Linked DNA regions of Homo sapiens: regions 2 and 3 are each linked to region 1. Evidence: fine-mapped expression QTL. A gene starts in region 1. Each other region holds a variant in brackets. All regions are shown on one strand. Distances are between the middles of the regions.

Region 1 (10,371 bases):
CAAAATTTTACATAATTTTTTAAAATGAGACTAATGTGAGACAAATGAGATAACCCATGTGTAATGTTTTAAACGGTCCATGGATAACGTGAATTCCTTCCCTCCTCTTTGTGACTTGGAGCCCCATAAGGGCAAGAATTGTGACATTCCTACCTCTGTCCCCTTGTCGTAGGCTAGTACACAGTAGGCACTATATAAGTGTTGGCTGATTTTAACTTAGTTCCCCAGCCTCCTTTCTCAAGGCCGCTACTCAGATGCTCATCAGGTAAAACAACTGATAGCCACTTCAAGCACTTTCCTAACACCTCTCCTAAGGCGAATTTGCATTTTACCAGTTTAGAAACAAACTAAAGGGGTGAAACTGAAGTGGAATTATAGTCACCAGCTAGGACCCAGATAAGGAGCCAGAGGCACAAGGACCTTTCCAGCCTCGAAAAGCTGAAATCACATGGCAGAGGGAAGGGACACAGTTACAACTTTTGGCCAGAAGCACAGGCCATCAGCTCCAGATGCTCCCAGGATGATACCCACCTTAATGCCCATGTTTCTCCTGATGGAGTCCTTGGAATTCAAATTCCTGCCTACAACTCTAATACCAGGCAACACTTCAGGGGGCTACCACAGATTTCCTAGAACCCCATAGATCATCTATTTAGGGATTTTTAGAACTGCTTCAGGATCACCAGGGTGAGAAGGGGAAGCCAGAGCAGTTCCACGTTATCCATACTATATGTTGGCGTTCTGGGTAAGAATTCACTGTGAAACAGAAGTTTGAAAACCACTGCTGTCTGGTCTAACCCACTTGTTTTTACAAGAGGAAGCTGAGATCCAGAAAGGGGAAGGGACTCACTGAGCATCATACAGGTGACCCATCCCGCTCCTCTTCCCAGGGCTTCTTCTGTTGATAGCCACCCCAACTCCTCCAAGATGTCACCAGGGTTGGCAAAGTCAGTGGCCTCCTGAGGGACAAGCTAGGAGGAGGTGTCTAGGGCTGGAAGATCACCTCATAGGAAACTCTCAACACTCAAGAAGCCCTCTCCACCACTGGCCCAGCTCACTCTGCAAAGTGAACTCTCTCAGTTCCTCATCCCACCTCACCAAGTGCAAGTGAGTGAAACGGGACCACAGCAAGAGGGCAGGCAATGGTTGGGCAAAACACACACGACCGTCTCATTACACACACCCCCATTAGGAATCATCACACTCAGGCTCTGGAGAGGCTGCCAACAGAAGGGATGGGGCTCCGGCATTACAGAGCTCCTCTCTACATTCCAGGCTTTGACCCATCACAGTCTCCAATGAGGAAGCTGGGGCCCACAGAAGGTCAGCCACCTGCCTGAGTTGACACAAGAAAAACTTGGTCTCTCTGGCAAAGATCCAGCTCCCTTGGGAAGCCTGCTTGTTCACCCCACAGCTAACAAATCGGGAGGCCTCAAGGAGGTGGGCAGGGTCAGTGCGGGTCTCATTCCTGCCAGCCAGGAACTTACCCCAGAGGAGCAGACCTCCAGCCACATCCACACACCCCTGACCCCTCTGCCCAAGTCTCCTCTGAAGGTGCTGAATCATCAGTGGTGCCACTTGAGGGTGCTCAAAAAACATCTTGGGAGATGAGCGGTTTGGGGAAGGACAGGGCTGTGAAGTTAGCTGTGAAGAGGCCAAGGCACCACGGCCTCTTAGGTCAACAGGACTCTCCCAGGAATATCTTCCACAGAGGCAGTTGGGAGTCGCAGTGTCAGAAACCAGAGTGGCTGCCCTCCACAGGATTCCAGGATACAAGATGTCAGGCGCTGTCCCTGCACCTGCCCGCTTGCCCCCGAGGCAGCCAGCTATGGTGCCCTCTCCTCCAGTGTGCACCACTGCCTTACCATTACCTGCACGGCCTCAACGAGGCTCACCTCTCTGGACCTTGTTTTCTCTTTTGTAAAGTAAGAATACCAATTTCCACCGTGCAGAGTTACGGTGAGGGTTAGCCAGACCTATGCAAGCCTTGGGACCTCCAAAATGCCTAGCCCAGAGTCCTAGTCAACTGTTGGCAACGCCCTTCCAAGCCGTTCCACCCCAACCTGCAGCACACCTGCTGGCCGCCCCCACGCCCATCCTAGCTCTACCCCAGGCCGGGGCGCCTGACGGCGGGGACCCCAGCTTCATTCAGCCCCAGAGGAAGCTCAGACATCTGAGCACCCTCCTCGCATCACATCCTTGTGCCAGGCGGGAGCAAGAGGTGAGAGAGTCAGCCCAAGCTGAGAAGACTTGGCCGGGAGCCGGGCGTGCTCTGCCCGTTCCAGGGGGCCTAACTCGATGGACGTCTGTCTCCCATCTCCCTGCTGGGTGCTTGGCTCTGCCCGCCGCCTCTACCCTGTCTCCCAGGTCAAAGTGCCAGGCTCCGGAGGGCGCCCCAGGGCAGCGGCGGGCAGCTCCCGCGCTCGGGTGCCGGCCACAATGCCCCGGGCCACGGCGTCAGGCATTGGGGCGGCGGGCCCGGGATCTGCGAGCGAGTGCCCCGGATCTCTTCGCCCCGCCAGCCCCAGACCCGGGCGCTGCTGCCGTCAGGCCGCGCGCCCCGTCCCGCCCATCGAGCCCGCAGACGGGTGCTACTCACGGCGGGAGGCTGAGCTGCCGCGGTCGCGGCCGCGGCAGGCGCGGCGGGAGCGGCGGGCGCGGCGGGCGCGGCGGGCGCGGCGGGCGCGGCGGGAACGGGGGACGCGGCGGGGTGCGCTGGGCTCGGCCCTGCAGTCCTCTCCTCCCAGAGCGCCCGGCACCCGCCCGCCGAGCAGCCTAGGAGCCGAGGGGGCGGAGCGGCCAGCCCCGTCCCAGGCGCCGGCTGGAGGCGCGCCCGGCTGCCCGGGACGGGGCTCGGGGCGCCCCCTGCTGGAGCCCCCTCCGGACAGTCCCGGGGCGAGAGCCCAGCTTCCCGGCCGGGTAGGGGACACCTCAGGGCTCCCAGACTCCCGGGAGAGCGGGGAGAGTCGGTAGCAAGACCCTCTGCGCGTCCCTACCGGCTCTACCGCGCACATGCTGCGTGGCCTTGGGCAAGTCGGCTACCCTCCCCCGGCCTTATCTGGAAATCGATTTGAATGAGCTTATACGTATGACATGGTCTGGCACAATCCTCAGAAAATGGTACTTGTGTGCTCCTCTCCCCACCATACACACCGTGAGCGAGGAAGCCCCACTGAGGAATAGGCCGTCTCCTCCCTCCCAGCCAGAGCGCTCCCTACACCGCAGACTCTCCTGGAAACCTCAAGCCCACAGCGTACAGCAAGGTGGGGGCTGCGATGAGAAGGGCCGCTCTGCTCCTCACTGCCCCCGACCCAGCCTGAGAGCGGCCTGCCCTCGTTTGCCCTTTGTCCTGGCACGGTTGCTGAGTGAAGCCCCCCTCTCACCATCACGCCTTCTCTAATAGAGGACTTGGGAATGGGTTCCTCTCTCTGCCCTCTGCCAAAAAATCCCTGAGGAAAAAAGGAATGAGAGTGAGGGGGTGAAGGGAGGAAGGAAGGGAAAACAGAACTTAAGCCAAGTTCATTTGTCTTATTTCAAAACAAGAGGCTGTTTAGAGGAAGCAAATGAGGACCCCTCCAACCCCTGGAATTTCCATCCCTAAGTCACCCATGGGGCTCCTCAAAAGGGCCTTAGATTCAGAGTCCTACCACCAGGTTCAAAGCCCTGCCCTGCCACTCCGCATGTGTGTTCTTGGGCATGGCTCTTTCTTCATCAGTAAAGTGGGAGAAACGCACCTTCCGGTAGCTCCTAATGAAGCTATGGTGGGGCTGAGATGAGATGGAGTGTGTAAGATGCACCTAGAGGACCTCTACCAGTGTGAGCACACACACACCCTTCAGCCTTTTGGACATTGGGACAAATACAGATGGACCCCACCCCCCAGCTGAGCAGTGCCTCCGGGTCCAGGACATCCTCGGCAAAGAGTTCCTTGTTTATAAACTTCACAATAATTCAGAACAGTGCAGCCAGCGAGCCTCCTCTCCTAAGAGCAGCATGATATATAGAGTAATATCCAAGACTAGAGGTGGTTTCTGATGTCAACGGACCTAAGGGAATGACACCCACTGGTGAAGTTTCACCAACATGAGAAGTCCCCCACCAAACTATCCCTAAACACCTCTTCCTCCATTTCCATTTACCTATCACTGGTGACAAACCATTACCAGCCTTGGTGGCACAGGACAACAGTTTCACTATGTTCATGCATTCTGAGGGACAGAAGTTCAGACAGCACAGTGTGTATGGCTTATTTCTGCTCTGCAGTGTCTGGGATTTCAACTGGGAACACCTGAATAGCTGGGGGCTGAAATCATCTGGAGATTTCTCCATTCTCATACCCAGTACCTGGGCTGTGATGAATCCAAGGCTGGGCTCAGCTGACCCTGCTGATCACCTACATGTGGCCTCTCCATCTCTTTCCCTTGAGCCTCATGCTTAATACCTCATTGTCAGCAGCAGCAGCCCCTTACATGAGTCAAAAGAGACATTCTTGGGTTTAGCAATTGACAAGTTAGTCAGAGTCCATTGCAGCTGGAAGGGTCATTGTCAATTGACCCTGGCCACTTTTCAGATGAGGAAACTGAGGCTCGGAGAAGGGAGGTGACTTGCCCAACATCACATAGCTGGTGAGAGACAGAGCTAGGATTAGAACCAGGCCTCCTCCAGATTCAGTCTGGTGCCCCTTCCACTGTACCTGCCAGAATGCAACTATCTAGGAAGCTACCATCTGGAGATGCATCTTATGCTTAAGGTTGGGTGAGTTCATCAGACCCTCACCTGAGGGCAGCGACAGGGCACTGAACACAGGACCAAGGTGGCCATCAGCAGAAAAGGGGAGGCCCCGAGGACAGTGGCAATGAAGACACAAATTCCAGAATGAAGCCAGAGGCAGTCCAGGTATTAAGAGCTAAGAATTATCCAACTCAGTTCCAGTCCCTGCATGGTTCCCATGGCTGACCAAATCGAGTGTTAATGCCTCACCCTAGCATTTAAGGCCCCAACCCTTATTTTCCTGCTGTGTATGCACATTCCCTTCCCTCCTCTGCATGCACATCCAGCTCTTTTGCCAGGTTGGATTATTGGCTGTTCCTGCCTCCATGCTTTTGTTCGTTTCCACTACCCTTCATCCCATTCTACAAAATCTTATCTATCCTCTAAGAGCCTTCTAAAGTATCATGTCTTCCACAGAAACTTCCCTGGTCTGCCCTCTAAATACCTCTCTCCTTTGAACCTCACCACTCTTGGTTGGTACATCTCTTGTCATCTTCCTTCCTCTATTTTAATTAGTGTCTACTTCTCCTTTTCTCAAGGGCAAGTACAATTTCTTGTCCATCTTTGAACCCATACAGTGCTTGATATCCCAAACCCAGTAAAGGTTTCTTAAACTGAATTAAGGAAGGTAAATATCACAAGGGGCCATAGCTGTCTTGTTTTCTATTGTCCCCTAAGAGCACCCAAGCACCTGGCACTTAGTAGATGCTCAATAATCTTACTTCAAGTGCTTCACTTCTAGGGGGATGTCATTATCCTCTTTTACAGATGATGTAACTGAGGCTTGAGAAATTTGATTTGCTCAAACTCATCCAATTTGTAAGTGGCTGAGCTGTGACATGAATCTTGCCTACTGGTCTCTGAAGCTATTCCCTCTGCTGCCTTCCCTCAACTGAAACTTCCAAGATTTCTAAAACAGTGTTAATCTGGAACTTTTCAGTCCAGGCAGTACATCAGAATAACTGAGAATAACATGGGGTGCTTAAAATCCCCCATGCTTAGACTGCACCCTACATCAATTACATCAGAACCTCTGAGGATGAGTTCTGGGTATCAGTTTTTGTTAAACTCCCCAGGTGATTCCCAGTGCACAGGTTGAGACCCAGTCTGTTCATGTCACAGAGACCTAGGGAAATTCTCAACCCCCTCAATGACAAACACATCTGAGTACCTGCTTTGTAAAAGACATTCCAAGGGACTGTGAGATGGTAGAGTCACAGGACCTGTGCTTCCCAGGGATGAGAATACAAGCCCATAGATAAAGATGTAACCATGGCAGGCAGCAAAGGGCACTAGTCATGGTGATATCCTAAAGCATACTTTGGTGCCTGGCAAGTTTACAGAGCCTAAAAACCTCCTGACAAGGGGGCAAGGTGGGGATTAAGATGCTGCATGTTGGCCATGGCAGATGGCACCTGGGTTGGCTTACAGCATGTGTAGTGTGACGGCTAAATGCAGAGACTCTGATGCCAGACTGCCTGGGCCCACACTCAGGCATCCCAGCATGCAACTTACGTGCCATGTGGTCTGGGGCAGGCTATTTGATCTCTCTGTGCCTCATTATCCCCATAGGTCAAATGGAGCTTATAGTAGCATTTATCTCTTGGGTTGTTGTGAGCATGCAGTTACTTTTCAATTCGATCAGTGTCTGGCACTTGGTAAAGTCCGCAATGATTATTAACTGTTATTATTATTCCCTAAATGTCTGGCAATAAGCTCCCCTGGGGAGGAAATGGATCTTATTCATCTCTGCGCCCCATCCCACCCCTAGCCTGGCCCAGAGAATTGCCAAATGCAGTCTGAAATGCAGTCTTCTTGACAACGGGTCAAGTCCTGACTCTCAGGCTCTCGGCCAAGGGAGTGCACAGGTGATTCCTCCCCAGAGGGCTTGCCTACTGGATGGAAGGCCGGCAGGAAGCTGCTTCTTCCCAAACTGACCTGGTGGCCTGGCTTCTCAGCCCTTCCCAGCCATGCCCACTCTGCCCTGTGCCATCTGCCCTCCTAGATGGGAGGTGTGGAGCAGGCTTGGTTTGGCAACCTTTCCTGCTACCCCCCCCACCCCCGGGGGCACTGGTTCTTGCAGCCAGAGGCAGCTGCTTCAGCCTCTAGCCTTGCTGGACTCAGCACCACAGGGATGGGGCAGGGAAGGGGAGGAGAGAAGGGAGGAAGGAGCTGGGGGATGGGAGGCCTTGCCTCTCTCTAGAGAACCTGGGGGATGGGGATTTCCTGGACATGTGTACACACTCTTTTACTCCGCAAACATTCAATAGTACCTCCTGGGGTTATGTGCTGGAGTAGGGGCAAATAAAGACCCAATGCCATAAAAGGTCAGATCTACTCCAGAAGGAGCCTCCAGAGAAAAGGAAAGCTTGATTCAAACTTGAAAGAAGAGTAGGGATCACCGGGAGAACAGAAAAGTCCACAGTGGGGCAAGGGAGGCAGGGCACATGGGGTGTGAGCAGCTGTGCATGTAAAGGGCTGCAGGTATGAAACCACTTGTCATTCACCGCCCCTATTTCCACCTGAGCCAGCACAGGGCCTACGCTATGGGATCATGACCCATGCATATGCCATTGCCTTCTATTCAGGACAGAGGCTGGTGACACATTGTGTGGCCAGGACCCCTCAAACTATACCCACCTTTAGGGCTACAACATCCAACCACCTTCTTCTTTAGGCTCGGGAATCAGACAGGCCTATTTGTATTCCTGCTCATCCACTTTCTGAGCCTCTGTTATCTCATCAGTAAAATGGGAATAATTACGTCTTTTTCTCAGGGCTGATGTGAGGACCAGACTCACAAACACTGTGGCAGATGTTTGAGAGAGCACTGGCTCAGGACCATAGGAAAGGTTTGAGAGAGACAGAGATAAAGAGGGAGAGAGAGAGAACTGGCACAAATGTCAACCTCCCTCCCAAACCAGATCCTTCCATCCCTCAAGACAGTCGGTCACGTATGCCCTATCTTTCCAGCCATGTTGTTCCTGCCTCTGTCTCTGAAATGCTTTCTTCTTTTCTCCTTTATCTATCCAAGGTTCAGCTCAATTCCAACTTCATTCATTCTTCAATCCTTTCTCGGTGCCCATTGGGCCAGACTCTGGGCTGGGCCCTGAAAGAAATGAGGCACTGGCCCTGCCCTGCAGGAACTCAGAGCCAAGCAGAGGAAATACCCTGGGAACAAAATGCCTGGAATCCTGTGTTCTGAGGCCAGATCAGGGGCTAGGCAGATCCCAGAAGGAGCCCAGACATGGGAGGGGTGGACCCTGAGTGCCTGGAAGGTGGGCAGGGGGCAGGGAGACTCCTCAGAGGAAAGGACCTCTTCCTAGATCTCATTAGTTAAGAATTCACAGCCATATCTGCTGAGCTGAAGATATGATTTCACCTTTCTGTGTTTGCTGATGGGTCCCCTGAGTGACCCCTGTCACCCTCCCCACTCTGTGCCAGGGATGTAGTCGGAGTCATCAGGGGCCTTTGGTGGATCCATGCAGGAAGGATGGGTAGGACAGCAGCTCCTTCCACACCCCCGCCTGAGCTCTGACCTCTGTGTGGGCTGGTCCTCCCACTTGGGGCCCTGCTCTGCCTGGGGCCCTGCTCTGCCCTCCCTGACCTGCATGGTGACTCCATTTCAGCTGAGCCCAGGTCCTGACCCAGTTATGAACAGCTGCATCCAGGAAAACAAAGACACAGGAGGCTAAGTTCAACCATCTATAGTGGCCTCTGCCCCAAACAGGACTAGGCCCGGCTCTGCCCCCTCCAGATCTGTTCTCCAAGATAAAGGACTCCAGGCTCCCTCAGCCCTTCTCTTTCATGAGATTTTTTTGGCCTCTTAGCCTTGGTTTCCATCACTCCAACTACATAAAATATTTTCATCCTTCCACCCAGATCAAATCAAAATTTGTAGAGAATTTATCATGAGCCAAGGCACTGTGCTGTTTTCTAATTATCTCATTTAATCCTCAAGCTGAATGCATTTTTGAGACCAATATGAATTTTTAAAAATTATATAGATGGGGAAACAGATTCAATCAAAGAGCATGATGGATATTTACATTTAGTTTTGCTGCCCAGTTTCCAATCCCTGCTTCCTATCTGGGAGGAAATAACTATGGTGGCTGTGTAAGTGGATATAATGCACCATCCCTCACCACCAAAGTTGAAGGGAGGCCAGGCATGGAGGCACTTTGGGAGGCCAAGACAGGCAGACTGCTTGCACGCAGGATGTCAAGACCAGTCTGGGCAACAGAGCGAAACCCCGTCTCTATAAAAGAAAATACAAAAATTATCCAGGCCTGGTGGCATGCTGAGGCAGCGGGATCGCTTAAACCTGGGAGGTCGAGGCTGCAGTGAGCTAAGATTGCTCCACTGCACTCCAGCCTGGGTGACACAGCGGCAACACCCTGTCTCTAAAAAAAAGAGTTGAAGGGAGGAAATCTTCCTTCCTCGTGTCCATAAGACTTAGGCATGGCCAATCAGATATTTCTGCCCAGCACTTTGAATCCCAAATAAGTAATGCCAAGATGTTCACAGTGGGGTCAGCAGCAGGCGAGGCCTCCTGGACAGATGATTTTTCCAGCCTCTGGAGCCCCTTTGGTTCCTGCTGCTCCAGCTTCATTGATGCTGTGTCCCTCTCACCCTCCAGCACACCTTTTGTGCTGAGTTGGCAAGAACCTGAATGATACTGGGAGACACGAGAATGTGCTCAATGCTGAAGGGCCAGGAGCCATACATCTTCTTTCACACCCAGAGTAATCCACCTCATCATAGAGCTTCCAACACAGGAGAAAGGTGGACAGAATTCCCAGACTCCCGGGGAAGGGAAGCCTGGCGTACAGCAGGCCTAGAGAGCAATCAGACCCGACAGCCCAGGGGCACAGCAGGCTCCAGGGGCAATGTCTCCAAGAAAAAAGTGAACTTCATACATCAAGCAATCTGTTTTCACCTACTGAGTGGCACTCTTTGAGAGGAAAGTTTGGGGATGAATTTATTGTAAGTACATAGAAAAATTAAATGAATAAATAAAGTGATTATTATTTCTAGAAAAAAACAAAAAGGTGTATAAGTAAGGAAATGTCATCATAATACACTATGGCTCAGCTTTGAGCAGTGAATAATATTTACATGTCATCATCATGTGAACAATAGATTTTTGTCTTGTCTCAATAGAGAGAAGGATGGGGTTGGGGAAAAGTATAAGAATTAAGTGGCCAGGCGCGGTGGCTCACGCCTTGTAATCCCAGCACTTTGGGAGGCCAAGGTGGGCAGATCACGAGGTCAGGAGCTCGCGATCAGCCTGGCCAATATGGTGAAACCCCATCTCTACTAAAAATACAAAAGTTAGCCGGGCATGGTGCGCCTGTAGTCCCAGCTACTCAGAAGGCTGAGGCAGAAGAATCGTTTGAACCCAGGAGGTGGAGACAGAGTCTGCAGTGAGCCGAGATCATGCCACCGCACTCCAGCTTGGGTGACAGAGTGAGAGTCTGTCTCAAAAAAAAATAATTAAGTCCTCGTCTTTCATAATAGGAAGTCAATAGCTACATGAAACTGAAAAGTCATGAAGCAGTTTTATAATAATGTTTCTTGGAAATAAAAGAAAGAGTTTTC
Region 2 (10,371 bases), 140 kb before region 1:
GTGTAAAAACAAATTCCTTATGCTTGCCAAGTCCTTCAAAGTTGACAAAGCTCGTTTACAAAATTGGTTTCAACAAGGCACTCATGACAAGTAACACTGATATCACCATTTCACAGATTAGAAAACTGAGGCCCAGAAAGGTTGAATGACAAGGCTAAGTTCCAACAGCTGCAAAGTGGCAGGACTTAGCCCAGGCTTTTTGGATCTGATTGGTAAAATATAATAAAGACTGTTAAGAACTGGAAAAGGGAATTGAGAGATGATATAGGATCTCCCTGGCTCAATTCCAAAATGAGACGAAGAAACCCAAGTGCAATCCCATCTAGGAGCAGGATAATGGCCCAGCTGACTTTTCAAATGCTGTTCTGGCCTCTGGGTTTAAATCCAAAGAGACATGAAGGCACCAGAGCATGAGCTGGCAAACTCAGCTTCGTCGGCCTTGGAAGTTGTCCTCAGACCCAAGTCCTTACGCAAACTCCCAGGGGAAGTGATGTTTGAGGAGGCAGGGCTGGGAGGTGCAGAGGGTATTTCCTATCCCTTCTCTTTAAAAGGGGAATAAAGGCTGGGCTCCGTGGCTCACACCTGTGGTCCCAGCACCTTGGGAGGCCAAGGCGGGCAGAACACGAGGTCAAGAGATCGAGACCATCCTGGCCAACATGGTGAAACCCCGTCTCTACTAGAAATACAAAAATTAGCTGGGCGTGGCGGCACACGCCTGTAGTCCCAGCTACTAGGGAGGCTGAGGCAGGGGAATCACTTGAACCCAAGAGGCGGAGGTTGCAGTGAGCCGAGATTGCCCCATTGCACACCAGCCTGGGCAACAGAGCGAGACTCCATCTAAAAAATATATATATATAATAAATTTAAAAATAAATAAATAAATAAAAGGGAAATAAAAATTCCAGCCAGGTATTCTCACATTGAGTGGTGTGATGACCTCTGATCTAGGTGCTGGTAGAAGAACACAAAAAAAGCCCACCATCGAGTCGTGTGAGAAAAACACTGCAGGGAGGGGCACTACGTCCTGTCCCTAATAGAGGCTGCTGCGGCAAATGGTGACCATTAGGATGGACTTTTTTCACCTCATTTCTCCCTTTATCTTTAACATAATATTTGATACATGCAAAAGCATAGACAACTAATATGTAAGTTAGAAAGCATTATAATAAATAGAACTTGCAGGAGCCCACCGTGAACTTAGTGTTGGCTGGAACACTGCCAACAGCCCAGTGCCCACCTTGTCCTCCTCCCCATCTCAGCCACCCAGATGTAAGTTTCATCCAGAATTTTGAGAGTGGTCATTCCCTTGCTTTTAAAATTCAATTTTAGGCCAGGTGCAGTGGCTCACACCTGTAATCCCAACACTTTGGGAGGCCGAGGCAGACGGATCACCTGAGGTCAGGACTTCGAGCCCAGCCTGGCTAACATGCTGAAACATAGGGCTCTACTAAAAATACACAATCAGCTGGACATGGTGGCATGCACCTGTAATCCCTACTCGGGAGTTTGAGGCAGGAGAATCACTTGAACCCGGGAGGCAGAGGTTGCAGTGAGCTGAGATCACGCCATTGCACTTCAGCCTGGGCAACAAGAGTGAAACTGTGTCTCAAAAATTAATTAATTAATTAATTAAATTTTATCACATTCACATGTATCCCTAAACAACTTATGGCATAGTTTGTGAGCTTTAAAAAAAAGAGTATAATAGTGTACATAGTTCTCCGGGATTACTTTTTCATTGAACACCGTACTTCTCCAGGAAAAGTAGAGAAGAATGTGGATTTGAGGGTAGGCAAAACTGGGCTGGAATCCCGATTCTAAGTACTCCAGCTGTGTGACTGCATGCAAATTTCCTAACTCCGCTGAATCTCAGCTGTATCATATAAATGGGGCTCTCATTTCCCTTACAAGATTAGGAAGAGGACTAAATGAAATGTATGCAAAATGTTCCTATTGCAGAGCAGATTTTAAACAATTATTATGAGCTTCATTTTCTTTTCTTTCACTCTTCCTCTAGCTTAGGGGTGGAGGATCACTGACCCATAGAGGAAAAAATACTTTAAAAAAATTTCTCCCTAGATAATATAATCAACTGCTTTTTAGATTAAGAACTGGGAACATGAATTTCATTCAGTAAGTAAATAAATGACTAAAATATATACTTCAGCTATATATTATGAATTGCTAATGGACGAAGGGGGAGAGAAGAAGAACCAGTGGGAGAGGGAAAAACCGGAGGAGAGAAACTGTTAAGGGGAACTCACCAATGGTGTGTCTGCTTTTTGAAATGTCAATTAACCATTGTTCACAGATCTTCAGCTGCTCAATCCCTAAGCCTATTAATGTTTGCTTAGAATGGGATCCTCTCAGCAGATCACCAAGGAAGACATTTTCCTTTGGGGTGCAGCTACAGTGAACAGAACAATATCAGGATGAAATCAAGTTGGGGACTCTATGGAAGGAAAGTTCTCCAATCCTGTGCCAGATAGAATTCCCTGTGAGAAACAAGTCCTCAAGTTAGCTCTTTCACGTGTACTTACTTTGATTGTCTGTGGAGTCCAGGGCCTGACTTTTCCTTCATAGAGATGTTGTAGTTCACCTCTTACAGTATGGCCTTCATTTGCTTCCAAAATAAGGTTTTCACAAATAAATATGCGAAGGGAAAAGGCAAATGCAATCTAAGATTTGGAGTCAGGAAAGCTAGTGAGATTGACATCGAAATGCAACACACTAAAATATTTATATGGATATTTGTGAAATATTAATGCAGCATCCAACACTCACATAAGCACACACTCTGGGGCAGGAACCCTCCAGACCTCTTGAAAGAATTGCATTTGAACCGGCATGGCTTTCATCACTGGAATGTTCCATTTGCCTCTGAGAATGCTGTGGTCTCTTTCAGCCCTGTAAGTGTCAGCTGGTCAACACATCCTTCTTCAGAGCCAACAGAACACACGTGGCGCCCTGGGCCAGCTGCTGCGCTCATCCTCACACCTGGGGGCCGCAGTCGTCTGCTAGCAGAGGCCACAGGGACTGGGCCCCTGTCTGGGAGGCGCATGGGTGCCTGGCTTCTGGCTGCTGGTCCTCAAAGTCATCCTCAAAGGATTGTGCATCCTCAAAGGCCCCCCTCTGCCCACTGCCTGGCCCTGTGCTTCCCAAGGGCTTCTAGGAAACACAGCAGGTGCCATCCAACACCAGAAAGCTGGGCTAAGAAGACTCAGTCAGCAGTGCTTTATATAACCTGGATGAGAAGAGGGCCAGGAGGAGATATGGGCATGATGGAGTCCTGGTTTCCCAGGGCTTAGAGAACGTGGACCCCTTTAGGACAGGGTCTGTGTCTGTCCTGCTCTGTTCCAACCCAGCATCTAGAACAGTGCCAAGCATACAGCAGGAGCCCGATTAATACTGGTTCCCTGACTGCCTTGCAGCCTGTGGGGGTGGGCTGCTGAGATGCCCCCATCCAGGGGCAGTGTCCTTTACTGTGAAAGATGGGCAGAAGCAAGTGTGTCAATTTCTTCCATTTCCAAGAATGAAGGATGAGGCAGGCCACAGTCAAGAATAGATGAGACTCGTTAACAATGAGGCAAAGCGAACGGTTCATCCTTTCCTGAAAGGTCCACTGCAGTTTATCAGCTGAAGAAATGAGCACCGTTACTAGGGGCCAGAAAGTCTGGGCTTTCATTAGATATTTTCACAAATTTGTTGTGTGAAGCACTAGTCACTTCCTCTCTCTAGGCATCGGTTTCCTCTTCAGTGAAACATAGTGGTTGGGCTAGACAAGTTGTAAAAGGCTCTCTGATCAAGACTGGGTTTGTCAAAGGTCTTTCCTGCTCTTCTTCCTAGCAGGAGGGCAGCCCCACCTTTACCGTAACTGACTTCCTAGGAGCTCCCAGTGAGCCCTGTTCCAGAACATGCCTGCTGATTTATGTAACCAACCATAGCCAAGAGCCCCTCGCAGGCCCAGGGCCCTTGCCCACAGTTGGCAGTTCTCGGCCTCTGCTATCCTCCCAGGGTGGAGGGAGGCACAGGACTGTTTCTGCCTGAGATCTGGGGAAGCTCAAGAAGTCCAGGTCAGCTGCTAAGCTTTCTGCAGCCAGCTTGTGGGCTCACTCCATTTCTGGCTCGACACTTTTCTGAAACTGGGTCGCCTTGCTGTTCCTGTGGGGTCATTTTGCTCTGGACCCATCAACTGGCTGCTGACGAAGGGAACTGGGACCTCTTTCCCCAGCACCCTTTCCTTTTAATAATAGTTTTCCCCCCTCTCTCCTTCCTGGCTCACTTCCTCAGCTCAGTTTCCTCACCTTCCAAAACTTCTCTTTCAGCCTCTTCCCATGTGCTTTCCCAATCTCCCGGCCTCGCCCTGACTTTATTTCTGACTTCCATGGGTCGTCTCTTGAGTGCTGCTCAGCAACACTGTTCTTTTGGCCTGAAAAACAGGGCCCACATTTCGATGCCATTGAGTGAGCTTCCCTTGCCATTTCCACCGAAGGGGCCAGGTCATCCGTCTTTTTCCTCTCCCTTCTCGCCGTGGATCCTTCTTCGCCCTTCTCCGCCCACATCGTTAGGAATTCTCCTGCCCCCATCTTGGCTGTAGTTGGCAAGTGTGTATTTTGCTAGGGCC[G/A]CCATAAAAAAAGTACCACAGACTGGGTGGCTTAAAAGACAGAAGTTTATTTTCTTACAATTTTTGAGGCCAGAGTCTAAGATTGAGGTGTCAGCAGGGTTGGTTTCCTCTGAGGCCCCCTTAGTTTGTCGATGGCTATTCCCCCTCCCACTCCTGGGCCTTCATGTGGTCTTTCCTGCGTGTCCTAACCTCCCCTTCTTATAAGGACACCAATTATATTGCATCGGGGCCCATATCAGTGAGCTCATTTTAATTTAAGTGCCTTTCTAAAGACCCCATCTCCAAATACAGTGATATTCTGTGGTACCAAGGGTTAAGACTTCAACATAGAAATTTTAGGGAGACACACTCAGCTCCTAACAGCAGGAGTGGTGGCAGTGAGGTAGAGGGAGCATGGGCATACTCGTCTCTGGCAACTTTTTTTTTTTTTGGATATGGTCTCTCTCTGTCACCCAGACTGGAGTGCAGTGGCGTGATCTCAGCTCACTGCAGCCTCGACCTTCTGGGCTTAAGCAATGCTGTCACCTCAGCCCCTGGAGTAGCTGGGATGCCAGGTGCCTACCCCTACACCTGGCTAATTTTTTGTATTTTTTGTACAGACTGCGTTTTGCCATGTTGCCCAGGCTGGTCTCCAACTCCTGAGTTCAAGCAATTCCCCTGCCTCGGACTGCCAAAGCGCAGGGATTATAGGCGTGAGCCACCACTCCCAGTCTCTGGGTGGGTTCTCTTGAACTGGACACCTTCCTGTTAGGGAAGCAAGGAGGAGGCAGGCCCACTGCAGGCCTGCGCGGACGGTTCAGGAGGACCTTCTGAGATTCTGCCCACTCAGCACCCCACTGGGTGCCCCCCCTCAGAGTTACAGGCACACGGGCTAAAGGAAATGAGATGGGGGTAGCCCTAAAAGAAGCCAAGCATCAGGTAAACCAGAAGTTTAATAAAAATGAGCAAAATTACAACATGGCGGGCCAGCAATGGGCTGCTTCAGAAGGTCTGAGGTGTTGGTCAGCCTGACGTCCTGGCTTCCATGGTTCTGGGAGGTCACAGGATTGGTCCCTCACACCCAAGGTTCACTTTCCTCAATCACCCTGTTCCCAATGGGGAGGACTCTGTCTCTCTGGTGTAATTTTTGGCCAGGCTGGTTCTGAACCCCCTCAGCCTGTGAAGAAGGCTGCCTTAGTCTGACCTTCACCCCGTGATGATGAGGATGTCCTTTATATTGTTTTCCTAAGTCCACACTCCCACCCCAGACTCTGAGGATGGCAGACAGAGGAAAGCCCATTTTATGGAGAATTAAGAGCTTTGGGAATGCTGGAGCCTCCTCCACAGAAGACAGCCACAGCTCCCAGGGTCTCCTGGCTTGCCTGCAAGCTCTTCTGAATTCCTTGGGCCCATCTCTCTTGCAAAGTGCTCAGGACGCCCGGGTGCTGGTGCTGAGCTGGGTCCAAAAGTCTGCACAGAAGGGAGCCCCGCTGGGCCCAGACCTCCCTGGCGGCCACTGCAGGTCAGGCCAGTTAGGAGGTGCTGCTCCTCCTCCGTGGGTGGAGGGCTTTCCTCCTGGCGATGTCCTCCTCAGTGTCACTCTCACAGTTCCTCTGGAGAAAAAAAAGAGAAAGAGGTCCAGGGCAGGAGGATCATGAGACGCCAGGAATGGGGCTGTGCTGGGCAACCTGGGTTGATTCACCTGGACCACGGGACTACAAGCCAGGGAGGTGGGTGGTGAAAGCAAGCCTGCTGATCCATCCAGGGGCTGGGGGATGGGAGGGATCTGAAACGAGGCCAGACCAACTGCTTGGAGGAAGGAAAGCAGCAGGGCATCTAAGGGAAACCAGACATCAGGAGAGGCCAAATTATAATAAAGAAAATTACATCTAGTTCCCTTTGTGGCTGCCATATAATCAAGGCCACTTGGCTGGGTGGTCTGTGGCTGCTGGGTCTCCTGAGCTCAGCCTAGAGAGACTGGAGGATGGGTGTGAGCCACAAGGTACTCCCCATGCTTGACAGCCACCATCCCATGCCCCTTCTTCTTTGATGGGCTGCACCTTCAGCCGCCTTGCTGACCAGTGTTTCCAGGGAAATGACTTCTGAGCTCCATTTTTATAAAACAGGAAATGAGTATAAAGTACTGTCTGTCAGTTCCTACATGGCAAACCAGAGCTGAGGCAGCCACCCCGAGGCCATAATGTCTTTTCATCCAAGTCATGATGATCTAATGTAATTATAAAATTATTAAAAGAAGTACTAATCCACAGTGACTTCATTCCTAAAATATCTGTTGTCCAATGTTCAATTCCAGTGCTTCCTAAACAAAAGGACCTATCATTACTCTTTTTTTTTTTTTTTTTAAGGAAAGTCCCTTTGGGAAAACTGCATAACAGATATCTGGGACCCAACATTTTTCCACTTCTAGGATGAACCTTTGAGCTGATGGTGCTTGCTATTTGAGTAAAAAGAGTACTATTTAAGAATATTTGTACAAGAACAAAAGTTTGGAAAGAAACTGACATTCTTTTTGGCTGGGCGTGGTGGCTCATGCCTGTAATCCCAGCACTTTGGGAGGCCGAGGCGGGTGGATCACCTGAGGTCAGGGATTCGAGACCAGCCCAGCCAACATGGCAAAATCCCATCACCACTAAAAATACATAAATTAGCCAGGCATGGTGGTGCAAGCCTGTAATCCCAGCTAGTCAGGAGGCTAAGGCAGGAGAATCTCTTGAACCCGGGAGGCAGAGGTTGCAGCGAGCTGAGATGGTGCCACTGCACTGCAGCCTGGGAGACACAGTGAGACTCTGTCTCAAAAAAAAAAAAAATTGACATTCTTCTCAATTACTCTGGTCTTCTCTCCCCACAGATTGTATCTGTCAGGGAAGAAGGGCCAGCGGCTCAGCCTGCGAGGCATGCCCACCATCTGCCACTCATCCTCCCAGGGCCTTTTCCCCTTCCTCCAGCCTGAGCCAGCTGGAAATCCAAGGTCAAGATCAACTTTAGCCAAATACATCCTAGACCAAGCCCGGCTATAACAATAAAAATAACTCAAGCTCTGCTGAATAGCAACTTTTTAGCTTGAGTCAGAGCCAAACAGTAAAAAAATAAGCTGGGTAAAGTCTGCTTGTCATTATCAGGGATTCTCAGCGGGAGAGCGGTCCAGTGCCCTGCATAGGAGACGAGGAAAGCAGCCAGAGCCGGCACAGGGCTTGGCCAAAGCCACACAGTTGTTTGGGGCCTCTGGGCCATAAATCCTCAAGTGCTGGCAAGAGATCATGCTAAAGAGAGAAGACCCCAGGCTGTGTGGAGGGAGTGGGGACAGCAGGGCTATCCTAGGTCTAGCCGTGCATCATAAGGCTGCTCAGCCCTCTTAGGCACCCACCTCCCAGTCGCTCCCTGAGCAGGGCGTCCCCTTCTGTCCTGACCTGTGCCATCCCAGACATTCCTGAGCACCCTACACCACGCTCCATAAGCGGGGGGAGGGGCTGTCCAGGGAACCCCTACCAACTGCATTTTAAAGTCTACAGGAGGATTTTACTTTTTTAATTTTGAAACTTAATTTTCTTTAGAGTTAGGGTCATGCTCTGTCGCCCAGGCTGCAATGCAGTAGTGTGATCATAATTCACTGTAACCTTTAACTCCTGGGCTCAAGTGATCCTCCCACCTCAGCTCCCTGAGTAGCTAGGACTATAGGTGCCTGTCACCATACCTGGCTAATTTTTTTGTTTGTTTGTTTGTTTTTGTTTTGTAGAGTCAGGGTCTCACTGTTGTTGCCTGGGCTGGTCTTTAACTCCTGGCCTTAAATGAACCTCCCGCCTCAGCCACCCAAAGTGCTGGGACTATAGGCACGAACCACTACTGCCAGCCTACAGGAAGGTTTTAAACAACAACAATTGCTAACGCTTACTGAGCACTTACATGCCAGGCTTTAAGAATATGTCATTATTGGCCTGGCATGGTGGCTTATGCCTGTAATCCCAGCATTTTGGGAGGCCGAGGCGGGCAGATCACCTGAAGTCGGGAGTTCGAGACCAGCCTGACCAACATGGAGAAACCCCATCTCTACTAAAAATACAAAATTAGCTGGGTGTGGTGGCGCATGACTGTAATCCCAGCTACTCAGGAGGCTGACGCAGGAGAATCGCTTGAAGCCAGGAGGCAGAGGTTGCGGTGAGCCGAGATCGCGCCATTGCACTCCAACCTAAGCAATAAGAGTGAAACTCTGTCTAAACAAACAAAAAAAAAAAAAAAAAGAAGAAGAAGAAGAGGAAGAATATGTCATTATTTAATCTTTAGGAACTATTATTAACCCTATTTTACAAATGATGAACTATCAGCACAGAGAGGTTAAGTAATTTCCTCAAGGTCACACGGTAAGTGGCAGATTTGAATCCTGGTAGTCTGACTGCAGAGGGCACCCTCTTCACCAGTATATTCTGTTATAAGCTACTCCCTTTAAATGTATACAAAATGGCAATAAAGTAATCAAATATAAGATATTGTCTAAATATTATGATGATGGTAATCTGAAACAAAGCAGAAATAGAAATATGGAAAAAAGAATGTAAAGCTCCCATTCTAAAGCAGCTTTTGGGTTATCAGAAATACATTTTGGGTTGTCTGTGGTCAGCCGGCAGCAGCGGCCCCTCTGAAGGCCCACCAGGAAAGGATGGGAGATCCTCCAGGAGTTCATGCTGCTGCATCAGTGGTCCCCTCCCGGCACCACCCAGAGGTCCCCAGAACACACTCCTCTGAAGATCACACTTCAGCCTTCAGGGAAGAGGAGGACTGGGCCAGCAGAACTGGCTGGAAACAGTGAACACCCACCTGCCTTGTGAGGGGAAAGGGAACTCACCCATCCCTGAGCTCCAGGCTACCCCAGAATTCTGCCCAAGAAGAGGGCATGCATTTACCCACCAGGTCCTCATCCGGCCTCAGGTGCACCTTCTTCATCAGCGAGCGGGTGAGGTGGTTGCACAGGGACACGATGCTGAAGGAAAGCTGAGGGAGGCAGAGGAAAGGAATCCCCAGGTGAGAATGTGCATGGAGACCCTGGAGAGCCAGAAACCCCGCCCTAGCCCCCACCCTGTCCCCCGCCGCCCCAACCCTGGACACACCTTCCACCGCCTGCGGACATACTGCTTCCTGAAGTTCTCCAGATTGACCACAGACTCCCTGCGCACCATGGCTTGCTGGTTGTCCACCGGCTGAGAGACAAAGCAGAGCATGGCAGCTGATGCTGGGCTTCAGACAGCAGCCACCCTCCTCGCCGCAGAACTCCCCACCCACCGCATGCCCACCGCCCTTGGCTTGACCCTGGCATCTCCCCGCCAGGTGGGGCACACCGTGGGAGCATCACAGTCAGGGCAACAGCTACACATGTCTCAGCTGTTCAGGAGTTGCCTCTCAGCTATTATTACCACAGCCTGACACACACACAGCCTTGGCTGGAGGCTCAGCAGCTCCTGAAGGGGAATAGCAGGAGGCAGGCCCTCCAATCGCACATCACTTTGGGGAGAGGGTCATTTTACAGCAGTCTGGGATGCCCTCTGGGCACTGGGGTGATTCTGGGCTTGGCAAAACAAATGCCTTGTTGGTAGACGGGGAATTCATACTCCATTAAAAAATAAATGGAAGGAAATAAGGGCTTTGATGAAAGTCAAGAGGCAACAGGATGTGCAGTTGCTTTTCACAGCCTGGCAGTCAGAGCTCAGCTTAAATTTTGACTTCTCCAAGAAGCTTGGGATGGCTTCTCTGAGCCTCAG
Region 3 (10,371 bases), 70 kb before region 1:
GACATGTTTGATGTCATTGGTTCACAGCTGGAGAGCAACTTGCCTCAGAATGAATCATACCTTGAGTCTCACCCACATCTGATTTAGATATTTAGATGAGACTTTGGACTTTAAACTTTGGAGTTGATGCTGGAATTAATTAAGAGTTTTGGAACTATTGGAATGGAAGGAATGTATTTTACATTTGAAAAGGACATTAATTGGGGTGGGGGGCAGAGACAGAATGCCAGAGTCTGAATGGACTAAGACAGATGACAAAGCGGAACAAATGCTGTGCCAGAAACTAAAGACCTAGGTTCCATTCCAGCCTTGCCACTGACCTTGGACAACTCATTTCCCTTCTCCAGGCAGGCCCTGGTTTCATTACCTACAAAAGAAGCAGACTGAGCAAGACAGCCCCAAAGCCCCCTTTCTTCAATTTTATAAAAGATGGCCCCTTTATGGGGCTCAAGAGAATCTAAGTATGGCCCCTAACTTAAGCATAAGACCCCATTAATTATATTCATTTTTAAAGACTCTAGAATACTGTTTTTGATGTTTGATACTACTTTTTCACACTCTACATTCTTGCTTCCTATAGTTGATGTGACAGAGCAAAAAAAATCTCCCCTGAGATTTAGAATTGCCAGATAAAATAGGTTTTTACTTGCTAAATCTGGCAACCCTACTTGGGCTTATTTATCCTGTCAACAAAAAGAGTCAAACTCTGTAAAATATTTAAAGATGTTTATTCTGAGCCAAATATGAGTGCTCAAGACCCATGACACAGTCCCAGAAGGTCCTCAGAACATGTGCCCAAGGTAGTTGGGTAACAGCTTGATTTTATACATTTTAGGGGGACAGAAGTTACAGGCAGAATCAATAAATCTAAGGTGTACATTGGTTCCATCTGGAAAAGTGGAACAACTTGAAGGTGAGGATAGGGGGTTGGGAGGGCTTCTAGGTCACAGGTGGATTTTCTGATTGGCAATTGGTTATTATTGAAAGACCTGGAATCAATAGAAAAGAGTGTCTGAGTTAAGACAAGGGTTATGGAGACCAAGGTTTTTATTATGTAGATGAAGTCTCACAGGTGGCTGCCCTTGGAGGCAATAGATGGCAAATGTTTACTATTCATATTCTTAAAAGGTGCTAGACTCTCAGCTAATCTCTTCAGGATCAGAAAAAGACATGGAAAGGAACAGAGATTCTCCACAGAATATAGATTTTTCCCACAAGAGTCAGCTTTGCAGGGCCATTTCAAAATATGTCAAAAGATTTATTAGGGTAAAATACTTCTATTTCTTTCAGGGCCTGCTATTTGTCATGTGATGTTATAGTAGAGTCAGGTTGGAATTTATTATCTTATTGCTGCAAAGAGTCTGTTTTGTTAGGCTTAAGTTCACTGTTTTCATATTAATGCTGGTCACTTGTGCCCGAATTTAAATGGGCAGAGAGTATAATGAGGCATGTCCAACCCCTCTTCCCACCATGGCCTGAAAGTTTTTCAGGTTTACTTTGGAATCTCCTTGGCTGAGAGAGGGGTCTATTCAGTTGGTTGAGGGGGCTTAGAATTTAATTTTTGGTTTACAATCCTCTGACAGAAGCTGGGGTATCCAGCCAGCATGTGCTCCACTGGGGCTGAAATAAAGCCATGGGCCCAAAGGGAAAGATCTCAGGAAGGGTTCTAGGCCAAGGGATCCAGGACCTTGGGATCACTTGGAGAACTTGTTTTAAAATGCAGATTTCCAGATCCCACCATAGACTTTAACAAATTAGATTCTCCAGCAGTGAGGCCTTAAAACCTGTATTTTTACTCTAACAACATAATAATAGCAATTAATATTCATTGAACACATACTCTATGTTACATGCCTTATGCACATTATCTCATTTAATCATCACAATATCCTATGATCTAAGGACTAACATTTTTCTATTTCACACTTTAAGAAACAAAGGCTCAGAGAGGTTAAGCAACTTGCCCACAGTCCCATAGCTAGTAAATAGAGTCAGGATTCAAACCCAAGCAGAACAGCTCTCAACCACTACAGCATACTGAGTATTGCAGATGATTCTTTTCTTTTCTTTTTTTTTTTTGAGACAGAGTCTCATTCTGTTGCCCAGGCTGGAGTGCAGTGATGCGATCTCAGCTCACTGCAACCTCCGCCTCCCAGGTTCAACTGATTCTCAGGCCTCAGCCTCCTGAGTAGCTGAGGTTACAGGCACATGCCGCTACGCCCAGCTAATTTTTGTATTTTTAGTAGAAATGGGGTTTCACCATATTGGCCAAGCTGGGACTCCTGACCTCAAGCAATCCGTCCACCTCAGCCTCCCAAAGTGTTGGGATTACAGGTGTGAGCCATTGCGCTCGGCTCCAGATGATTCTTATATGGCTAAAATGGCTCCAACCCAACTTTGGGGATCATTCCCTGCCCCCTAGTCCATCCTAAATAAAGAACATCAAAATCTTCTTTTCTCCTTTCTTTAAACATTTCCAGAAGCACACCTGGACCCACTCAATAATCTTAGCATCATGAAAAGTAGAACAACCGGACATAAAATAGTGACATAGAAAGTACACAGCAACACCTATGATATGCTGTGACTTACAAAATGGAACCTAAATCCGCTTAAGCCTCTTGTTCAGCACTATCAACAGAACTTTCTGCAATGATGAAAATGTTCTAGATATGTGCTGTCCAATAGAGTAGCCACTAGTCACATGTGGTTACTGAGCACTTGCAATGTGGCTAGTGTAATAGAGGAATTGAATTTTAACTTTTATTTAATTTTAATTAATTCTAATTTAAAAACTGAAGTGGTATAAAATATTTTCCATTAAATACAACTTTATTGTTTCAGTAGAATTGCATTTCACTTTAACCGTTGCATTGCTTTGCGTAAGAATTGAAATGTGGGCTGGGCACAGTGGCTCACACCTGTAATCTCAGCACTTTGGGAGGCTGAGGCAGGCAGATCACTTGAGCCCAGAAGTTCAAGACCAGCCTGGGCAACATAGTGAGACACTGTCTCTACAAAAAAAAAAAACTTAGCTGGGCATGGTGATGTGCACCTGTAGTTCCAGCTACTTAGGAGGTTGAGAGGATCACCTGAGGTCGAGGCTGTAGTGAGCCGTGATTGTGCCATTGCACCCTGGGCAACAGAGTGAGAATCGGTCTCAAAAACAAACAAACAAACAAAAAAACAGGTTGAGATGTGCTGTAAGTATAAAATTCACACTGGATTTTGAAGACTTAGTTTGAAAAATAGAATGTAAAATATCTCATTAATAATTTTAAATAAAAATATTATTAAAATCAATTCACCTATTTCTTTTTGTTTAGTCAGTGTGGCAACTAGGAAATTTAAAATTATGTATGTGGTTCACATTACATTTCTATTGGACAGCGCCAATAGGCAGGGTATCTCCTCTAGATCTAACTACTAGTTACAGGAAATACAGGGAACAGAGGAATGAGTTAAAGAACACCATGAGGAAGGAACAAGTCTAATCCAGACTGTGAAACAGGACAAGTGGCCTAGTTTTCCAACATATCAATGGCATCAAAAAAGAGGCAAAAAAAGAGAAGGGGAAGGGGGAAGGTGAAAGGGTGAAGAGAGACTGAGATAAGATGGCACATTTGAGCATATGTACCATCTGCCATAGCTGCAGCGCCCCTCTGCTCAGGGTTGAGTAGGGTGTGGCCTAAGGTGGCTGCCTTGGTGTTGGGGACCAGGCTGGTGCACTATTTTCTCAGTGTCTCATGGGTGAGGCCGTCCTTTGCCCCACTCTGACCCTTGCCCCCACCTTGGGCAGGTGCTGGAAGCTGGAGCACCCTCCCAGCTGCTGGAGTAACCCTGGGTCTGCTCTGCAGACTGGGGTCAAAGGGCCAAGATGATGGCTCCAATCCTTCAGCAGCAAAGATACAACCTTCACCTTGGGGTGGGACATGTGAGAGTTCTAGGGCTCAACTTTTCTTCTTGTGAAACAGGAGTGAAAAAAATAATGCTTTCATTACCAGCTTTGGATGTGAGGGTGGGAGTGAGAGGAATCTCTATGAGATTCTTGATAAAGTCCTTGACATAAACACCGTACATGGTGTCATCATCAGGGGTGGCAGTGGTGGAAGGGGGCTTGATTTAGAGTTTATTTGAAGTTTGCCACCGGTGCAATGTGCTTTCCCAAACATTTCCTCACTTGAGCTTGATATCCACCCGGAGGGCATCCTCATTCTCAGATGAGAAAACTGAGGTCTCAGGAGAGCAAGTGACTTGCCCAAGATCACACAGCTAGTAAGTGGCAGGACCAGGATTTAGACCCAGATTTTCTCAGCCCCAGTTCACCATGTGTCCCTCTCACCACAACCCTTCCACATTACAAAGCCTGAGGTGCTGATGCAAAATGGAAAGGCTCAAAGCAGCCCCAGGCACTGGGCAGTCCTCTGATATCCCTGCTCTGCTGCATCCACGCTCTCCTCACAGTGGGCTTCACTATCTATCTTCCTCTCTCCCCAGCTATATTATTTTTGCTTCCACAGCACCTAGTGCAAGAAAGACATTCAATCAGAAGTTTGGTGAATAAAAGAAGAAAGAAAGAAATAAAACATTAAAAATAACAACATGATGTAGAATATTCTGTATCATATAGACAGTGAAGCCTTGGTATTTGTGAAAGATCTGTCCAGAGCTCTCTGCAAATTTTCACATCTGCAGTGCCCCCTCTGAAACACACAGAACCCAGCTCCACCCTTAGTCTGCCAGCCCCTGCCAGGTTGTGTGGGCCTGTGACCTCGGGCAAATATCTAAATAAATAATAACCCTGCAATTCCTACTTTAAATAAAATGCTGCATCAGTGTAAAAGCTTCTTAGCTTAGCATTCCCAAAAGCCACTGACATGAAGTCTGGGGTTGAGGGAGGACTTTGGGGTGCAGTAATCAGTCATCTGTTTGAAGGTGAGATATGGGCAGGAGACCTGGTGAGACATGGTCTCCTTGGGATGAAGAAGGGAACAGCCACTGTGCCCCCTAGAATCTCCCCCAGAAACTCAGAAAGGTGGGAGGCTGATGACCTGCCACTGTCTAGGCCCTGGATACCCAGGCTGGGACATTCACATTAATGCTCAGTCACCTCTTTTCAAAGCCAAACCAAGGAGCCTGAGTGTCATTTCTTTACCCTCTAAGACCTCTGCCCTGGAGCCACCCCCCATCTCCTTCCAAGTTTCTTTCCTCTTACATCCCACATCTCTTTAGCTTTAAGATGAAAAACAAAGCCTCACGACCTGGCCTCATCTCTTCTCCTAGTGTTCCCAGGATCATCCCCTTCCTGCAAATCTGACCTTTGCCTCCTTCCTCCCTGCAGGGTGGCATGCCTGCTGGAAATGCTTTTCAGACTCTTCTGGAAATGTATACATGAATGACCTGCACAGGCAGCGATAGGGGAAAAATGCTGCCAGAGCTGCTGGGCCCAGGAAGCTGGGCTCAATTCAGGAACCTGGGAAGCATCACTGCCACCCTGGAGCACTCTGCCAGGCAGTTCTCTGGTATGCAACCACCACGGTATCGCTTTCCACAGGCTTGGAATCAAGGAGGCCCCAGAGCAGTCAGGGGCCTGTGATGGGAGGCCAGCCCAACCTTCACAGGGAGACTTACATTTTTCAGGGCTAGTTCCACATGTGACATGAGTTAAGCTGCTGAGATTTTGAATATATTCTATACCCCATACAGAAGTCAACTTATATGGACAATTAAATCCTTCCCAGTCCTGCCTTCAAGAGTCACGACCAGAGGCAGCTGCTTCTAGGGAGGTCACAGATGGGATAATAACAACTGAAAGGGATTTAGATCAGAGCCAGGCATGTCCTCCTAGTGCTGGCCACTTGAGCAGA[A/C]AGCAGGCGGAAGCCCTGCACCAGACAACAGTTGCTGAGAGGGGCAGTGGGATCAGCGTAGACTCATTCATAAAACCTGCAACTGGGCAGCTTTCAACTGAGTAGGTGGATACTAACACTTACTGGGCAAACCCACTAACCTATTAGGGCCCAGTGAGGACCACGAGGCCAAGACTTCTGACCAGCCTAACAGGAGTCACTAAGTCTAAGCAACAAAAGCCCATGAGGCTGGGTGCGGTGGCTCATGCCTGTAATCCTAGCACTTTGGGAGGCCAAGGCGAGTGGATCACTGGAGGCCAGGAGTTCAAGACCAGTCTGGCCAACAGAGTGAAACCCCACCTCTACTAAAAATACAAAAAAAATTAGCCAGGCATGGGGGCACATACTGGTAGTCCCAGCTACACAGGAGGCTAAGGCACAGGATCACTGGAACCCGGGAGGTAGAGATTGCAGTGAGCCGAGATCACGCCACTGCACTCCAGCCTGGGTGACAGAGCAAGACTCCATCTCAAAAAACAAACAAACAAACAAAAACAAAAGCCCAGGAACTCCTCTCCTGGGAGGTCCTCCCTCTCAGAACCTGGCCATACATGGGTTAGGGACAGTCTTGGAACGCTTGGGTCTTCTCCAATCTCATAAATTCTTAGCAGTCCATAGACAGGCACCCTGAGAACAATGAGACAGCTTGGAAGTGAAGGGGGAGACAGAAACGGGACAGAACTTAATAAGCACAGAGGCCCAAGCAAGTCATGGGAGCACCAGCGTGACAACTGATGTTACAGATGGTGCACCTGAGCTCACAAGAAGCCGGCACATAACTGGCTGACCATGAGCCCTGTTGGGAAAAACACAGACATCTCAAGAGCATTTACCTGCCACATCCCCGCCACCGACTCCTAGGGTTCTACAAACAGGAAGAAGCAGGCAATTTCCCCAGCAATTAAAGGCATGCCAATTATAGTAAGAAAGTATCAATTTATAGCTATAAAGATCAATAAATAATGAAACACGTTTCAAAACAAATGACCCAGGGCTGGCAGGGCTGCAGGCACACAGCAACACTCCTACGTTGTGGTAGTAATGGTTAACCAGCACCATCTTTGAAAAGTGAGGATATTGAGTCCCAAAAATGTCAGCCTTTGGCTTAGTCATCCCATTCCTGGGGATGTTAGCTAAATCCTCAGGACTTTGCTGAAAGAATTAATTAAAAAGAAAAGGAGAAAATCATGAGAAGAAAGTTGTTTTATCAGTAAAATTTGTAATGGTTAAAAGCTAGGAAATAAAAAGCATGTGTCCAACAATAAGGATGCTATGGTTTGACTATTTGTGCCCTACAAACTCGCATTGAAATTTAATTCCCAATGCGGCCGTATTAGGCAGTGGGACCTTTAAGACGTGATTGGGTCGGGGTGCGGTGGCTCACGCCTGTAATCCCAACGCTTTGGGAGGCCAAGGCAGGCGGATCATCTAAGGTCAGGAGTTCGAGACCAGCCTGGCCAACATGGAGAAACCCCATCTCTACTAAAAATACAAAAATTAGCTGGGTGTGGTGGTGGGTGCCTGTAATTCCAGCTACTTGGGAGGCTGAGGTAGGAGAATAGCTTGAACCCAGGAGGTGGAGATTGTAGTGAGCCAGGATCGCGTCATTGCACTCTAGCCTAGACGACAGAGCGAGACTCCATCTCAAAAAAAAAAAAAAAAGAGGTGATTGGGTTATGAGGGCTCTGTCCTTATGAATGGATTAATCCATTCATGCATTAGTGGATTAACAGGTTACATGGGTGGGACTGGTAGCTATATAAGAAGTGAGACCTGAGATATCCCACTCTGCCCCCTCACCGTGTGATGCACTGGGCTGCCTTGGGGGACTCTGTAGAGAGTCCCCATTAGCAAGAAGGTCCTAATCAAATGTGGCCCCTCAACCTTGGACTCCTCAGCCTCCATAACTGTAAGAAATAAATACCTTTTCCTTATAAATTAACCAGTTTCAGATATTCTATTATAAGCAATAGAAAATGGACTAAGACAAGGGAAATACTGGTATGCAATTCAGTGAAACATATAGTCAGTTAAAAGAGAAAAGCCAATTTTTAGAATTATGTTAATTGGGGAAAAAAGTAGAGCAGGAAATTATACAAGTACAATGATTGTATACAAATAGATAAAGATTGAGAGGAACCACAGAAAAACATAAATAGCTGTGTTTGGGTTGTAGGATTATAAATGTAATTTCTTGTCCATTCCTGCTTAGTTTTTTTTTTTTCCTCCCCATAATAAACTTTTTAAGAAGTGGCTCGGCCTTTCCAGAAAGGTGCACTTGTCACTCTCTGCTGGGAATCAGGATGCCGACTGCTGACCCTCAGCTTCTCTCTGGGTCACGCAGGGCAGGCATCCAGTAGTCCAACCAGCTGGGAGGCCCGTGGGAGAAACATGGAGGACACTGGGAGCTAGCGAAGGGAAGAGCACAGGCAATTCTATACATTTAAACACCGAGATGGATAATTTAAGAATCAAATGCAAGAGTATGCAAATGTCCATCTGCTACTTAAATCTATATCCTGCCAATACCAGAGCATAGTTCTCAAATTAGAATGATCTCAAATGTCAGGTGGTCCACCGAGTCTGTAGGCAGGTTAAGGATGGCTGCCTGCTTTACAGATGAGAACTAAAGCTCAGGGAATTGAGGTGACTTGCCCAAGGGCACAAAATCAGGGATTCCTGAGAGATTCTATCACTCCCGCTACCAGGCAGGTGTATACATGCTTATGAGCCTCAGAATATTCTTTTTTTTTTTTTTTTTTTTTCCGAGATGGAGTCTTGCTGTCACCCAGGCTGGAGTGCAGTGATGCAATCTCGGCTTACTGCAACCTCCGCCTCCCGGGTTCAAGCAATTCTACTGCTTCAGCCTCCCGAGTAGCTGGGATTACAGACACCTGCCACCACACCCGGCTAATTTTTGTATTTTCAGTAGAGATGGGGTTTCACCATGTTAGCCAGGCTGGTCTCAAACTCCGACCTTGTGATCTGCCCGCCTTGGCCTCCCAAAGTGCTAGGATTACAGGCATGAGCCACTGCACCAGGCCAGAACATTCTTTATATAGTCCTTGCTGCTTGACTGGACACAGCCACTGTAACTTGTCCACAACCCAACTCAAACTCTATTGTTTATCAGAGCCCCACCTGCCCAGGACGATACCAGCGTGGCTAGCCAAACCCTAGAGTATTGAGGTCATCTATCCAAATTCCATCATGAACTGTGAGGTCTTCCTCTGCTAAGCCAGCATAAGGCCAACCCGCCTCACACTCATAGCTGTCTGCACAGGCCGTGTGGACTCAAGTCCTGGTCCTGCCACTTCCTGGCTATAGGCTCCTGTAAGTGTCCTGGCCTCTCAGTGTTCTTGTCTGTAAAATGGGGATAATAAGAGTGTCTGTGTGACAGCGTTGTTATGAGGATTAAATAAGGTACAGAAGTACTTGGCTTGCACAATGAATACAAAATAACCTGTCTGCACTAGTAAGACATTTCCCTCATCACAGTCTTTAAAGATTGAACAAGACGACAGATAGAAAGCGCCTAGCAAATTCTTGGCTTACAGTAGGACTCTCTAAATAATAGCTATTATTATAACAATAAAGGTGTCATTCACAGCACAAATGCAGTGGACTTTCCCCAGGAAAGGGCTGGAGAAGGGCTTCGCAGAGCCCAGAGATGTTTGTACTTCCCCTCCTCATAGTACACAGCCCTCGCTGACAGCCTCCCCTGGCCCCACCCCACCATCTGTCCCACTCACCCTCCCACATGCTTCTCCAGCCAGGAAAAGACCCCAGTGCAGTCATTTCTTCCCTTTGATCTCCAGGATCCAGTGAAAGCCAGACTTAGGCCATTGCCCTCTGCCCCTGCTATTCAGCAAGCTTGCCCCTCCTTTGGCTCAGTTTCAGGAGGAGGAAGCGGGTAAGGAGGAAGGGGGTAACTGAGACAGAGGGGATCTGCCCACCACTGACTTCACCTCCTCTGGGCTGAGCTTAGGCCTGGTTGCTGCTGCCCCCTGGGGCCTGTGGCTGGAGTTTCCACTGCTCTGCCTGCCCCTGCTGCCCCCCAACCCTGTGGGTCCTGGGGACCCCACTCACAGCTCAAGGATGAGCACCACGTCGGTGCGGTTCTCATAGACGTCGTGCAGCGTGATGACATTGTGGTGCAGCACCTGCCGCAGGATGCTCACCTCCCGCTCGATCTCCTCCCGGCTCACACCGCGCCGGCTCGCCCGGCTCTGCCGCTTCTTGATGAACTTGGCTGCATACTCAAGCCCCGTGCTCTTCTCCCGGCACTTCTTCACGATGGCAAACTGGCCACTGTGGGGACACAGACCCACAAGATTAGGTCATCACTGTGGTCATTGGGGAAATGACCCCACTGTCAGCTACCAGGTCACACAAATTCAGAGTGATTCTGCCAGGACAGGACAAATCATGCCACCAGTCTGCATCCCCACCTGATGACAACCTG

Which allele goes with the higher level. Alleles are on the strand shown, and positions count from the first base shown. SD is a standard deviation of normalised expression in the study named. Not every link is listed here.
As copies of G replace A in region 2, the expression in aorta of the gene that starts at base 2,787 in region 1 goes up (moderate effect, 0.58 SD a copy in GTEx).

Evidence for each region. PIP is the estimated chance that this variant, and not a neighbour inherited with it, causes the effect.
Region 2: its variant is the best candidate, but not a certain one, in a credible set for the expression of DAPK2 in aorta (GTEx, PIP 0.68).
Region 3: its variant is the best candidate, but not a certain one, in a credible set for the expression of DAPK2 in esophagus muscle (GTEx, PIP 0.72).

Annotation. Positions count from the first base shown.
Region 1 is chr15:64,043,699-64,054,069 of GRCh38, forward strand. It overlaps DAPK2 (death associated protein kinase 2), which reads right to left and starts at 2,787. Exons shown (of 12, transcript NM_014326.5): 1 at 2,600-2,787. RefSeq lists enhancers at 1,071-1,120, 1,171-1,220, 6,761-7,307 and silencers at 2,421-2,640, 2,671-2,730, 2,751-2,960.
Region 2 is chr15:63,902,385-63,912,755 of GRCh38, forward strand. It overlaps DAPK2 (death associated protein kinase 2), which reads right to left. Exons shown (of 12, transcript NM_014326.5): 10 at 9,724-9,813; 11 at 9,524-9,607; 12 at 4,652-6,216. The coding sequence ends at 6,136. Among named protein-coding and RNA genes, the nearest start is that of MIR422A, 37 kb to the left of the region's middle. The variant G/A (reference allele first, on the strand shown) is at 4,625.
Region 3 is chr15:63,973,538-63,983,908 of GRCh38, forward strand. DAPK2 (death associated protein kinase 2) reads right to left here. Exons shown (of 12, transcript NM_014326.5): 3 at 9,996-10,217. Among named protein-coding and RNA genes, the nearest start is that of DAPK2, 68 kb to the right of the region's middle. The variant A/C (reference allele first, on the strand shown) is at 5,868.